Homo sapiens: one gene and its partners. The protein of the gene in region 1 interacts with the protein of each later gene in a pairwise test. Each region holds a gene or a part of one and is shown in the gene's direction. Other genes may lie near its edges.

Region 1 (3,500 bases):
TTTTTTTTTTTTTTTGAGCCAGAGTTTCGCTCTCATTGCCCAGGCTAGAGTGCAATGGTGCGATCTCAGCTCACCGCAATCTCTACCTCCCAGGTTCAAGCAATTCTCCTGCCTCAGCCTCCCAAGTAGCTGGGATTACAGGTGCCTGCCACCATGCCCGGCTAATTTTGTATTTTTGTAGAGATGGGGTTTCTCCATATTGATCAGGCTGGTCTCGAACTCCCGACCTCAGGTGATCTGCCCACCTAGGCCTCCCAAAGTGCTGGGATTATAGGCATGAGCCACCACACCTGGCCAGCTACCGTTTCTTTAATGACAATACCAAGTGCTGATGAGGACACGGAGCTAATGGATCTCTCATACTTTATTGGTAGGAATGCAAAATGGTGCAACCACTCAGGAAAACAGTTTCTCAAGAAGCTAAACGTCCTCTTACCATATGATCCAAATAGAAATGAAACTTATGTCTACACCAAAACTAGTACATATGTTTATAGCAGCTCCGTTCATAACTGCCAAAAGCTAGAAGCAATCCCAATGTTCTGCATTGGGTGATGGATAAACAAAGTGGTACGTCTGTGCGGTGAAGTATGACTCAGCCGTAGAAAGGAATGAACCACTGCCCTTTCAGGACGTTCAGAGAGGAAACAAAAGGCATGAACCATTGATACACATGGAAACTTGGATTGATCTCCAAGACATTATTCTGAGAAAAAGTCAGTCTCAAGGTTATATAATGTATAATTACATTGAGATTACATTCTCAAAAAGCCAAAGCCATATTGTTGCAGGACAGATGAGTGGTTGCCAGGGGCTGAGGTGGGGAGTTTTGGGAGTGGTGGGACCGTCCTGTATTCTGATTGTGGTGGAGCTGAATCTCCACGTGTTAAAACTCACAAGAGTTAATTTTACTGTATGGTAATTTTAAAAATGAATTTCAGCCAGCAAAAGTCATCCTTTCCTTACAAAGATTTGCTTCATTTGCACTCTTGCTGGTGTCGCATCCAGGTTGCAGCACTCGGAGCGGGCGAGGCAGGGGGCTGAGGAGCGGAGCCACAAGCTGCAGCAGGAGCTGGGCGGGAGGATCGGCGCCCTGCAGCTGCAGCTCTCCCAGCTGCACGAGCAATGGTAGGGGCCCTGCAGGGAGCCTGGGCTGGGGTGTGGCTCAGGAGGGACTGGGAAGAACTGGGGACAGGTGGTATCCTGCTTCAGCACGAACGGGAGGAGGGGGGGCGGGGGGGCAGGTGGTATCCTGCTTCACCACTCACCCCTGCAGGGTTCGTATGTTATCCCTAGGGAGCTCCCTCCCCACAGGGCTCCTCACGTGGTCCAGCTCGCCTCCAGAAGATCTGGCCACTCTCAAACCATGGTACCAGGTCACAGCCTGTATCACCCTTAACCACCCTTTCTAAAAAGAAACAGCTTTGTCAGTGTTGAACAGAAAGTCACCTTTCACCTAGCCTTTGCTGATGCAAGCTTCATATAATTTTGTGCACAGTTCATCTACAGATTTTTTATTTTTTAAGTCTCACTCTGTCATCCAGGCTGGAGTGCAGTGGTGCAGTCTCAGCTCACTGCAACCCCCACCTCCTGGGCTCAAGCGATTCTTGTGCCTCAGCCTCCTGAGTAGCTGGGACTACAGGTGTACATCAACACACCCGGCTAATTTTTGTGTTTGTGTTTTGTTTTGTTTTTTTTTTGAGACCGAGTCTCACTCTCTTGCCCAGGCTGGAGTGCGGTGGCGCGATCTCGGCTCACTGCAACCTCTGCCTCCCGGGTTCACGCCATTCTCCTGCCTCAGCCTCCCGAGCAGCTGGGACTACAGGCATCAGCCACCACACCTGGCTAATTTTTTGTATTTTTAGTAGAGACGGGGTTTCACTGTGTTAACCCAGGATGGTCTCGATCTCCTCACCTCGTGATCCTCCCATCTCGGCCTCCCAAAGTGCTGGGATTACAGGCGTGAGCCACTGCGCCCAGCCTAATTTTTGTATTTTTATTAGAGACAGGGTTTTGCCATGTTGGCCAGGCTGGTCTCAATCTTCTGGCCTCAAGTGATCCACCCGTCTCGGCCTCCCAGAATGCTAGGATTACAAGTGTGAACCACCGTGCCTGGCCTATAGATTTTTTGAGATAATATATATGCCAAGTTAAAAGCCTGATGTTGAGAGAAGAGAGAAGAGACATCTTTATTCCCACAAAGAGAGAGCAGACTCCAGGCGGTCCAGCAGTGCCCCCAGGGCCACTCAGCTGGTAAAGGGCAGAGTCAGCTTCAGGCTGAGGCTCCCTCCTGGCCTTCTCCCTCCAGGATCCTTCATTGTCAGTCTGGCTGTAGGTTGTAGAAAGCAGAATGAGGCCGGGCGCGGTGGCTCACGCCCATAATCCCAGCACTTTTGGGAGGCCGAGGCAGGGAGATCACGAGGTCAGGAGTTCAAGACCAGCCTGGCCAACATGGTGAAACGTCATCTCTACTAAAAATACAAAAAATTAGCTGGGCGTGGTGGCGTGTGCCTGTAATCCCAGCTACTAGGGAGGCTGAGGCAGGAGACTAGCTTGAACCCAGGAGGCAGAGGTTGCAGTGAGCCAAGATTGTGCCACTGCACTCCAGCCTGGGCGACAGAGCGAGACTCCGTCTCAAAAAAAAACAAAAAGCAGAATGAATTGGCCAGTGAGGTGGCTCATGCCTGTAATCTCTGCACCTTGGGAAGCTGTGGCGGGAGGATCACTTGAGCCCAGGAGGTCGAGGCTGCAGTGAGCTGAGGTTGCGCCACTGCACTCCAGCTGGGGTGACAGAGCTAGACCCTGTCTCAAAAAAAGAAAAGAACGAATTTTGAGCTTCCTTTCCTCAGGTCTCCATGTCGGGAGGGTTCTGCTTATGTGGTCTAAGTGTTCTAGAGCTCTCTTCCTTCTCCCCTGCGTAAGTGTCAAGTGTGTGCCTGCAGGCTTTTCTCTCCCTGGTTCCTGCTCTTTCTTGTGGAAGGGCAGGTGACCCTGGAGGAGAGGGAAGCGTTGCCGAAGGCTTTAGATGCTCAAGAGGCAATTCAGAGACTTCCCTGTTTCCTGGGCGGTGAATTGGGTTGTGAATCTTCCGTGAAAGTCTCCCACTGAGACTAACTCAAGTTCATTTTGGGAAAACAGCTCAAGCCTGGAGAAAGAATTGAAATCAGAAAAAGAGCAAAGACAGGCTCTTCAGCGCGAATTACAGCACGAGAAAGACACTTCCTCTCTACTCAGGATGGAGCTGCAACAAGTGGAAGGACTGAAAAAGGTGAGGTGGGCCATCCCGGGAGAGGAGAGCCTCTGGCAGCCTCCAGAAACCCCTAACATGCTCCGGGCAGGCTCCTCTCCCCGCACCCTTTGTGTGGGGGCCAGGCGGCTCCAGGGTGTGGGGAGGCTGTTAGGGAGCTCCTGTTTTAGGAGCATAAGACAAAGACAAATCATAAACCACTAAGCCTGCTGGCAGCTCAGATAGAGGCAAGTGCCATGAAGAGAATAAAGCA
Region 2 (3,500 bases), on another chromosome or scaffold:
TTTAAAAAAATACACAGGAATATGGGTACTATAGTAAATTCAAGTTTCTGTTTATTTTGATTTATGTGCTGTTTTTTTTTTTCCAAGTCCTGTAAGGAGCTGAATAAGTATTAAATTCTGGCATAGTAACAAAACAGAGGAGGAAATGATAACAAAAATAATATAGGGGAAAATAATAGAACACAAAGCAATAGCAAATGCTCATTTCAATAGCAGTGCTTTAGAGAAACTTCAGTTTTGTCTTTGTGAAAGTAAGAGAAGGGTTCAGAGATTAAACATTATTATTCTGTTTGGATTGTTCACTTCTTTTTTTTTAAACTTTAAGTTCTGGGATACCATGTGCAGAACATGCAGGTTTGTTACATAGGTATACACGTGCCATGGTGGTTTACTGCACCCAGGATTGTTCACTTCTTAGAGATCCTTTGCTGTGCTTTAACCTTTATTCCCATCTCCCTACTCCCTATCCATTTCAGCTTCTAAGTGTATCTCAGATGTAGTGGAGTTAGGTGTTAGAGTCAGACACACCAGAGTTTGAATACTAGCTCTGTTACTTTTTGTGTATTTGACAAAATTAATCTCTCTCAGCCTCTTTTTTTTATATATCTGTAAAGTAGGGATAAGAACCATTTCAAATGAATGCTCTGAAGATTAACTGGAATAATTGTGTGTTTGTGAATAAATATAAATGAAGCTGTTCTGAATGTTTTCCATACGTATATATGCCTCCATCCCCTCATTCCCAGTGCATGACCTTGGCATTAGATCAGACAGTAATCGTTTAACCAGCCTCTAGTCTCCAGTGAAGTTCTCATTGCCTTGGGAGTCATTTTTAAATGACTACATTACAATACATCTATACTTTCTAAAATGTAGATCTCACCATCTCTTCAGGATAAACTTTAAGCAACATTTTCTCTTTTAAAGAAGGCTTTTAATGGTCTGTCACAGTCTGCCTCTCCAGCCTGCTTTTCTGTTACTGTCTCCTTTGTTAGTTTTGTTAGTGCCAGACCCTTATTCCCTGACTGTCCTATCCTATTCCCCTTGCCCATCTACTGGACTTGTATTCAGCACTGAAAATCTGACTTATATTTTACTTCTCTTTGAGACATTCTCCTCTTCCCTCTTCCCTCCCCACAACCCTCAGAATAATCATGCCGTGGCTCGTAGAGGCTGTGTGCCATCTCTTTGGTCCATTTGTATCTGTATTCTTAGCACTTAGTATCAGGATTTGCCCGGAGGTGTTGAAGCTGGCAATCATCCTTCCATTCCAACAAGAATAAATATAATTTATCACATATATGTATGAAATAAATGTATTTAATATGTATAATAAATGTTGAAGGTTTTTAAAGAAGTGATGGAATTTGTAACTAATTCATGGAATTTATAACAGTTCAATTCATTATATGCTATTGAAGTAGCAGTCTCATTTTTAATCTCAGAAACTGTTTCTTTCATAATTCATGTTAAATTAAGAAGTCATTTGGGAATTTAAAAAGCATCTGGACTTTCCTCCCTGCCCCCCTTCCACAACTGTCTGTGAATAAATTGAAAGAGGAAAATAGTGCTTACATAATCTTAAACCTTTTCTTTTGACATGTCTTGGAATATTTAATTTCTATTATTGTGATAATACAAGTAAAACAAAATTATACTACAGGATTTATAGATGTTTACTTTTTTTGAGGAAAATCACTCAAAACAATAAGCTTTTAAACCCAAACTCAACAATCATTGCTTTTTGTTCTTAGTGATAGTGCTTGTGCTGATACAATATGATCAAAATATTTGGCCAGTATTAGGAAATGTCCTAGAGATGATTATAATAGTAAGAGCCAGTCTTAATTGGTAAGTGCCAGATATGGTGCTAAGCTCTTTAATTCTCATGACTACCTTAGGAGATAGGTACAGTTTTCTCCCCTTGCCCTTTCGTGTGTGTGTGTGTGTGTGTGTGTGTGTGTGTGTGTGTGAGAGAGAGAGAGAGAGAGGATCTTTCTCTGTTGCTCAGGCTGGAGTGCAGTGGCACAATCACAGTTCGCTATAGCCTCAACCTTCCTGGCTCAGGAGTAGCTGGGACCACAGGCGTATGCCACCACACTCTGCTAATTTTTAAATTTTTTGTAGAGATGGGGTCTCGCTATGTTGCTTTTGGTTGTTGCTTAAACATCTTGGGCACAAGCAACCGTCCTGTCTTGGCCTTCCAAAGTTCTGAGATTACAAGAACCACTGTGCCTGACCTGTCATCTCCATTTTTAGATGAGAAATTGAGACTTAGATCTTCAGGTCACTTTATTAGTAACTGGTGAAGCCAAGATTTGAGACTGATTCCAGAGTACAAGCTATTTCATGAGATAGTGAATACTGGTTAAGTTACCCTGTTGGCTTTTCTTCTAGTAGACAAGTACATTCCTTTATCTACCAGGATTATTTGATCCAATTCTACACTGAAATAGATGAAGATATTTGGGCTCAGATAAGTTACCTGCCCAGGTTCATAGATAGATCTCAGAGCTTGATCAGGAGCCTTAGCTTTCTTCTTCAGGTACTGATGCTTCTACTCTGCTGTGTTGCCATATTACCTCCTTTGTTGGAAATGATTTACTTTCTGAGTGTAGTGCTTTGAGGAATTTTAGTAAACATAGAATTCAAATTATTTAATTTTCACATATATTAAATTGATATGAAAAAAGATAAAAATCACAGCTTTAGTTTTTTTTTTTTTTTCTAAAATTAAAATTCTATGTTTCCCATTTGTCAAGGTAAGTCCAAATTAGGGGAATGTGCTTTTTGTGGAAAAATGGATTTTATTTTTTCTTTTGGACTACTGATATAAATCAAGTTGCTAGATTTCATTTAAAATATGTATATGCATTTTATTCATGTTCTTCAGATGTTTCATTGAAAATATTTTCCCATTAATTCTGATTTCTTGAGTTGTCCTAGGGATGGCTTTTGTTTTCAAGAAACATTTTAAAAATTCACTTTAATTAGAAAAAGTAAATTTCATAAGTTATTAGGATCTTTCTAGGCATTTATTAAATGAGTTAATATGTATGAAATTCTTAGCACCACTATCTGACAACATAGTTAACCTTCAGTAAAGATTGGCTGTTGTTTTTGCTGTGATAGTACTGATTTCGAGAAAGAAAAATTAACAGGAAATGCATATTAGGGATCAGAAGCAAATTGTTTTGATCAACTTTTTCTTGTGGTCTGCAGTCTGCTTTATTACCTGGAGCTCAGTAATAAGGCCAGCCAAGTTGTGTTGGTGATTCACCCATAAGAATTTAATGTGATCATCTTTTTTACATATTGGTCATGATCCTTGACAAGTTTAATTTACTAATTGGGATAATCAGTTGAAATTAGTTCTTTTTGAATCACTCATTGCTTAATGCGAAAGATACTACTGCTTAAAAATAGTAGTTTATTTTACTCTTATAAAGACGTATGTGAAATAAATCTTAAAGCTTCTATGTATTTAAAGGGCAAAAGAT
Region 3 (3,500 bases), on another chromosome or scaffold:
GGGTTGGAGCGATTCTCTGGCCTCCATCTCCCAAGTAGCTGGGACTACAGGCATCTGCTACGATGCCCAGCTAATTTTCGTATTTTTAGTAGAGCTGGGGTTTCACCATGTTGGCCAGGCTGGTCTTGAACTCCTGGCGTCAAGTGATCCTCCCGCCTCTGTCTCCCAACAGTGCTGGGATTGCAGGCATGAAGGGCATTCCTTCTTGGATTGTCATCTTCCTTTCTCCTAAGGAGAGAACACTGGGATTTTTTGTTTTGAGTTCTTTGAATTCAGCTGGTAGAATCAGTGTTCTGTGGCTAGAAGTAATGATTTTCACTGGGCCAGTTTGGACTCTGAAGAGTAATGTATTTAAGGATCTTTCATGCAAAGTGAATGATTCTAGCCACATTCCCACCTAGAAAACTCCACCACAGTATCCTCAGGCCCAGGGCACTGGCCTCTCAGGGGCACTGGATGGTTTGTGCCGGGATTTAAAAAGTGAAATTTTCTTTCTCTTTAAGCAACTTATTTTCAACTCTCTCACCAACTGCCTGGGGCCCCGGAAGCTCTTACACAGTGGGAAATTATACAAGACCAAGAGCAACAAGGAACTGCACGGATTCCTCTTCAATGACTTCCTGCTTCTTACCTACATGGTCAAGCAGTTTGCTGTTTCCTCTGGCTCTGAGAAACTTTTCAGCTCGAAGTCCAATGCTCAATTCAAAATGTATAAAACGGTGAGTATCACGCGTCTGGGGGTAGCATCAGGGGCCTAATGAGGTGTTGCCTCTATCTTAAGGCCTTCCTGGCAGACCCTGAGCTGGCCTTACGGGACCCTCCTCACCTGGTTCCAGATCGCTCGTGCTTCCTTTGCTGCTTCCCACGGGAAGGGCCCCATGCAGCTGGGCACTCCCCACCTGCCACAGGCCATCAGCCAGATTCCAGCTGAGATTCTGGCTTCCTCCTGGCCAGCGTGACACCTGGGCTCACCACTGTGTGCATTCAGCATTGGGTCTCTGTAAGCCGAGCCCCAGCACAGCACCAGCGTTGCTAGCAGAGAGCCTTTTGCACCAGCCGTCATGGGCGCTTGGAGCTCCTGTCCCCACCCAGTCCCAACACCTGACCCACCTCGATAATGACTTTTCCAGAAATGGAGGCTTCATTGTTCTTACAAATGGAGGTTTCATTTGTTCTGTGTAGAAGACCTTAGACGCTAGACCCCTTTCTCCTTCTCAACAAGGCTCTTCAGAACAAACAGAACTCTCTCTGGACATAGGCGGGTGGAGTGTTCTAGCCCATCTCACAGCCTGTGTTTTGGCCCTAATTCTTTCAGCCCATTTTCCTGAATGAAGTCTTGGTGAAACTGCCCACAGACCCTTCCAGCGATGAGCCTGTCTTCCACATTTCCCACATTGATCGGGTCTACACCCTCCGAACAGACAACATTAATGAGAGGTCAGTCCTGACCATGTGTGGCCTGCCTTGAACTCTGGGAGAAGGCCTGGACGTCTCCCTCTGCCATAAACCCATCTCCAGCCGTGCTTAAGCCCCACTAATTCTGTATCCTGAACCTCTCTTAACACATCCCCTCTGCTCCAGTCCCATGGTAGGCCTTGGTCACTGCAGCTGCCTCCTAACATGCTTCCCGGCTTCTAGTCTCTCCCCACACCACTCAGCAGCCTTCCCAAATGGCAGATCAGCACCTGAGGCCCTGCTACAGTCCCTGCAGGGGCTGCCCGCAGGCGACAGCCCACTGTGCTTTGCTGGTTTCCGAGGCCTCCTTGGGCCACAGGCCTCAGCCCTCGTCCCTCCACCTGCAGACTTTCGCCCCTCAGGCGCCCTTGTGTGGGTGCCATCCCCGCTGTTCCCAGCTTCCTTCAGGCTGCAGCTCCAACAGTGCCTCCGCGGCGCCAACCCGGGGGGTGCTGCTGCTCCTCTGTGTGCGCTAGAACCCCTCGTGACAGGTATCATCCGTGGGGCCAATGCATCATCTGTCTCCAGGTCCCAGCGCCTTGCGAGTGCCTGGCATTTTGTGGTCAGCCAAGAAGGGTCACTACCAGCTCTCATACTCCATTAGCATAAGCATCTTTCAGTTGACTAATATCAGGTCTTTGATAGGAAACTTGTGAAAGTTGAGGTTAGCAAAAGACTGAAGAACATGTGCAGAGCTCTGGGGCTCCACGCTGACCTGTGAGGGTGGGATGCGGCCAACGGCTGCCCCTGCTTCTCCCGTAGGACCGCCTGGGTGCAGAAGATCAAGGCGGCGTCTGAGCAGTACATCGACACCGAGAAGAAGAAGCGTGAGAAAGCTTACCAAGGTATCAGGGTGCCCGGAGGGTGGGACGCAGCCCCCAGGGGCCCTAGGAATGCCGGCCACTGCTCCTGCAGTCAGGCTGATGATATAGGGACGGGTCTGAAAGACCAGACCTGCTGCGGGATCAGACCAGAGAGCCCTCCCCTCTTGAAGCTACTACTGCAAACCTCCCTGGGGCTCCTGCCCACACAGACACGGGCTGGCAGTGCCAGCTCCGGGACCTCCCTCTCTGCACCACCTCTATCCCCCCCACTCCACTGCACCTTCTCCACTCCTTTCTCTCCATGACTCACCTCACCTCTGCTTGGGCTGTGGTGCTCCATTACATGCCACACCTGTGGTCTGTCTCCCTTCAGCTCCTGAGCAGCCACTGCTCCTCCTCACCCTCCTCTAGGGCCTGCCATCCACCCTCTCCCTTTGCAGCCAGGGGGCCTAGACCCTAAGTCTGCCCTCTCCCCATCCTTCTGCCCCTGCCTCCTCCCCCTTCTCACTTCACCAGACTTCAGTCCACGTCCTGTCCCCACCAGTGACACCAGTGGCCTAGTTAGTGGCTCAGCTCACTTTCCCTGCCCCAGCTCCCTGCACTGATGGCAGTCACTGAGGCGCTGCCTTCCCTCTGGACCCCATGGCCGCCTTCCCAGTTCTTCTTCCACCCTTGCCCAGGCCTCTCCCCGACCTCTGTAGCGCTCTCCCTCGGGGACCCCACCGACCCCCAGCTTCAGGGTCAGGCTAGCCACACTCTCCCAAGCCCGCGCCTCTGAACAGCACCCTCCAGAGAACCACCTGCCCCGCTGCTCCCACATCACACATCGGCTTTTCCCAAGGGACCACCAGCCTCCTTCCAGCAGCAGCTCCTCCTGGGACCCTCTGTGGACAGTAGTGTGGTCCCTGGCCACCCAGGCCCCTCCCTGGCACCTCACACCTGGTCAGCTGCACTGCAGTCCTCCTCCCTCGCCACTTTCCCATCGCCCTTTCCTGTCCCCGTATCACAGGCCCCCGATCTCCCACCCAGGCTGCAGCACAAGGCTCTCTTTCCTCTCTGCCACCCATCCTCTTCATTTCTGGAGTATTCTTTTTTCCAGAGCTGCTCTTATACCTCTTCCTGCTGAAGTATCTTCCCTATTGCCTCCCAAATTAACGACACATTTCTTACCCCACACTCAGGGCCCATCCCCACTACTACCTGCCACCCAGCCCCATCCCT
Region 4 (3,500 bases), on another chromosome or scaffold:
TCACTGATCCCCATTGAATATTTGTGAAAAGAAATTAAAGTCTTATGTCATCCTGCTTGGTTTTAGATGGTTGAGACCTTGTATAATAACGGTGCTAACTCTATATGGGAGCATTCTTTGCTGGACCCTGCGTCTATTATGAGTGGAAGACGTAAAGCTAATCCACAGGATAAAGTACAGTGAGTGGAATGTTTATAAATACTTTTATTTCTTCATAACAAATGGGGCCCACTGAAAGGAGTGCAGCTATTTTTGGTCAGTCTCCGCAAGGGCAGCAGAGGAGGGGGTTACCCTAGTTGTGCATCAGGTTCTTTGCTATTAGAAATGCAGAATGGGGTGGGGCAGGACCATCTGTTTAGCATGGCCACCCAGCAGGAGTAAGTGGCTTCCTCAGTTGGAAACCATGGCTTGGAGTCTGTAAATGTAATCAGATTTAAACTTATACTCAAATAAGAGGCGATCAGACCAGAAATCTAGGTCTGGGCACCCGTCTGCCTGTTGCCTCACTTATAAGATGGGACTAAATGCTGCTTTCTCCCAAAGTTGCTAAATCAGTTCAGACAATTACACAGAGAAGAGGGCTACTATAAAAAGCAGGTACTCTGGAGTCCCAGCCATTATAATAACTAATGTATGTTTTCAAACTGCAGGTCTTAAACCTTGCTGAAACTTACTTGAGCATTGTTCATTTTATTCTCAAGTGGGGGATGTGGGTCACTTCCTCTTCTTTTTACAGTACAAAGAATGGGGATTGTTGTATCTGAACGAGTGAACTGTTTTCTTTTTTGTTTTTGAACCAGTCCCAATAAAGCGGAATTCATCAGAGCCAAGTATCAGATGTTAGCGTTCGTCCATCGCTTGCCCTGCCGGGATGACGATAGTGTGACTGCCAAAGATCTTAGCAAGGTGGGTCACACCTTTTAAAATCCCTAAAAGAGCGGGCTGAGACAGCATATTGTTTTATTTGAAAAAACGAAAAAAAAGTCTGGTTGTGGGCTTTTTTTTTTTTTTTTTTTTTTTGAGACAGAGTCTCTGTTACCCAGGCGGGAGTACAGTGGCGCGATCTTGGCTCCCTGCAGCCTCTGCCTCCCGGGTTCCAGCGATTCTCCTGCCTCAGCCTCCTAGGTAGCTGGGATTACAGGCGCATGCCACCATGCCCAGCTAATTTTTGTATTTTTAGTAGAGACGGGGTTTCACCATGTTGGCCAGGCTGGTTTCGAACTCCTGAGCTCAGGTGATCCGTCTGCCTCGGCCTCCTAGTGTTGGGATTGCAAGCGTGAGCCACTGCACCCGGCCAGGGTTTTTTTGTTTTTCGTTTGTTTTTTTTGAGACAGGGTCTTGCTCTGTTGCCCAGGCTGGAGTGCAGTGGTGCAATCACGGTTCACTGCAGCCTTGACCATCCAGGCTCTAGCAATCCTTCCACCTCAGCCTCCCGAGTAGCTGGAACTACAGGCGCATTACCATACCCAGCTAATATTTTTTATTTTTTGTAGAGACGGGTTCTTGCTATGTTGCCCAGGCTGAAAAAAGTTTTTAAAGAAAGAAAAACAAAAACTCATTTCTGCACATTCATTAATTAATAGCTTTTTTGTCAGTCGGTTTCGTCTTTAATCTGAATTCAAATGGCAGCCATTCATATAGTGGAGGTTCAGGGCAAAGAGGAAAAGTAAGTCTCTGGAAGGCTGTTTGTGTTTTTCCAATATGGCTTTTAAATTATATTTTGATAAGTTTTTTGTTTGTTTAACTTTGAAATAGGAACCATCTCAGAGTTGTTTCTAGAAGGGACTAGAAAGATTATAGGACAATTGTTTCTTTTTAATAAGGACTAGAAAAAGTACTAAAGGAAGGGGACTTCTTCAGGTTTCCAGGTTGAACAGTAAGTATGATCTTCAGAAAGCAATGTGTGACTCAAAGCTATAGTACACAGAATGGTTTATGATACTTGTAAAACGAGTGAGGTGGTTTTCTTTATGTGGGCCTTCGCATGTTTTTGAGAGATGCTGTAAGAAATGTGCATATTTTCAAAGCGCTGCCTTGGATAAATGCTTACTCACACAGAGCATGAGAACTTACTTATTCAGAACTTTTTTTATTACTTTTTGGCCGGGTGCGATGGCTCACTCCTGTAATCCCAGCACTTTGGGAGACTGAGACTGGCAGATCACTTGGGCTCAGAAGTTCAAGACCAGCCTGGGCAACATGGCGAAACCCCGTCTCTACAAAGAATATAACAATTTTAGCCGGGTATGGTGGCCGTGCCTGTAGTACCAGCTACCTGGGAGGCTGAGGTTGGAGGATGACTTGAGCCCAGGAGGTGGAGGTTGCAGTGAGCTGAGATTACACCATGGCACTCCAGCTTGGACAACAGAGCAAGACCCTGTCTCAAAAAAAGAAAACATTTTCTGCATCTATTGAGATGATCATGTGGTTTTTGCTTTTGCTTCTATTTATTTATTTATTTATTTATTTATTTTTATTTATTTTTGAGATAGAGTCTTGCTCAGTCGCCCAAGCTGGAGTGCAGTGGTGCGATCTCAGCTCACTGCAAGTTCTGCCTCCCAGGTTCATGCCATTCTCCTGCCTCAGCCTCCCAAGTAGCTGGGACTACAGGTGCCCACCACCACACCCGGCTAATTTTTTTTGTATTTTTAGTAGAGACAGGGTTTCACCATGTTAGCCAGGATGGTCTCGATCTCCTGACCTCGTGATCCTCCCGCCTCGGCCTCCCAAAGTACTGGGATTACAGGCAGGAGCCACCGCGCCTGGCCTGCTTTTACTTCTATTGATGTGGCAAATTACATTTATTGATTTGTGTATGTTGAGCCAGCCTTGAATCTCAGCAAAAAAGCCTACTTGATCATGATGGGTTAATTTTTTTATTTTTATTTTTATTTTTTATTTTTTATTTTTTTGAGACAGAGTCTCGCTCTGTAGTCCAGGCTGTAGTGCAATGGCATGATCTTGGCTCACTACAACCTCCGCCTCCCAGGTTCAAGTGATTCTCCTGCCTCAGCCTCCCAAGTAGCTGGGATTACAGGCACGTGCCACCAGGCCCAGCTAATCTTTTGGTTTTTTTTTGTTTGTTTGTTTGTTTGTTTGTTTTTGAGACGGAGTCTTGCTCTGTGGCCCAGGCTGGAGTGCAGTGGCGCAATCTTGGCTCACTTCAAGCTCCGCCTCCCGGGTTCATGCCATTCTCCTGCCTCAGCCTCCTGAGTAGCTGGGACTACAGGCGTCCGCCACCACACCCGGCTAATTTTTTTGTATTTTTAGTAGAGACGAGGTTTTACTGTGTTAACCAGGATGGTCCCGATTTCCTGACCTCGTGATCCGCCCACCTCGGCCTCCCAAAGTGCTGGGATTACAGGCGTAAGCCACCACGCCCGGCCATTTTTTGTATCTTTAGTAGAGACGGGGTTTCACCACGTTGGCCAGGCTGGTCTCGAACTCCTAACCTCATGATCCGCCTGTTTCAGCTTCCCAAAGTGCCGGGACTACAGGCC

The links.
Region 2: the proteins of RUFY1 (region 1) and RAB3IP interact in binary tests that used the Homo sapiens proteins (3 or more experiments, as listed by UniProt).
Region 3: the proteins of RUFY1 (region 1) and ITSN2 interact in a two-hybrid assay, tested with the Homo sapiens proteins (one large-scale study listed by BioGRID).
Region 4: the proteins of RUFY1 (region 1) and GIT2 interact in a two-hybrid assay, tested with the Homo sapiens proteins (one large-scale study listed by BioGRID and IntAct).

What each region holds. Positions count from the first base shown.
Region 1 is NC_000005.10:179,595,554-179,599,053, forward strand, and holds part of RUFY1 (RUN and FYVE domain-containing protein 1), read left to right. Parts: intron 1-350; exon of another isoform or gene 351-1,008; coding exon 1,009-1,128; intron 1,129-1,268; exon of another isoform or gene 1,269-1,408; intron 1,409-2,699; exon of another isoform or gene 2,700-2,802; intron 2,803-3,138; coding exon 3,139-3,268; intron 3,269-3,500. UniProt on the Homo sapiens protein: Activating adapter involved in cargo sorting from early/recycling endosomes. Regulates retrieval of proteins from endosomes to the trans-Golgi network through interaction with the dynein-dynactin complex.
Region 2 is NC_000012.12:69,745,360-69,748,859, forward strand, and holds part of RAB3IP (rab-3A-interacting protein isoform alpha 1), read left to right. Parts: intron 1-3,500. UniProt on the Homo sapiens protein: Guanine nucleotide exchange factor (GEF) which may activate RAB8A and RAB8B. Promotes the exchange of GDP to GTP, converting inactive GDP-bound Rab proteins into their active GTP-bound form.
Region 3 is NC_000002.12:24,207,037-24,210,536, reverse strand, and holds part of ITSN2 (intersectin-2), read left to right. Parts: intron 1-503; coding exon 504-719; intron 720-1,315; coding exon 1,316-1,437; intron 1,438-2,217; coding exon 2,218-2,300; intron 2,301-3,500.
Region 4 is NC_000012.12:109,986,369-109,989,868, reverse strand, and holds part of GIT2 (ARF GTPase-activating protein GIT2), read left to right. Parts: intron 1-66; coding exon 67-179; intron 180-800; coding exon 801-906; intron 907-3,500. UniProt on the Homo sapiens protein: GTPase-activating protein for ADP ribosylation factor family members, including ARF1.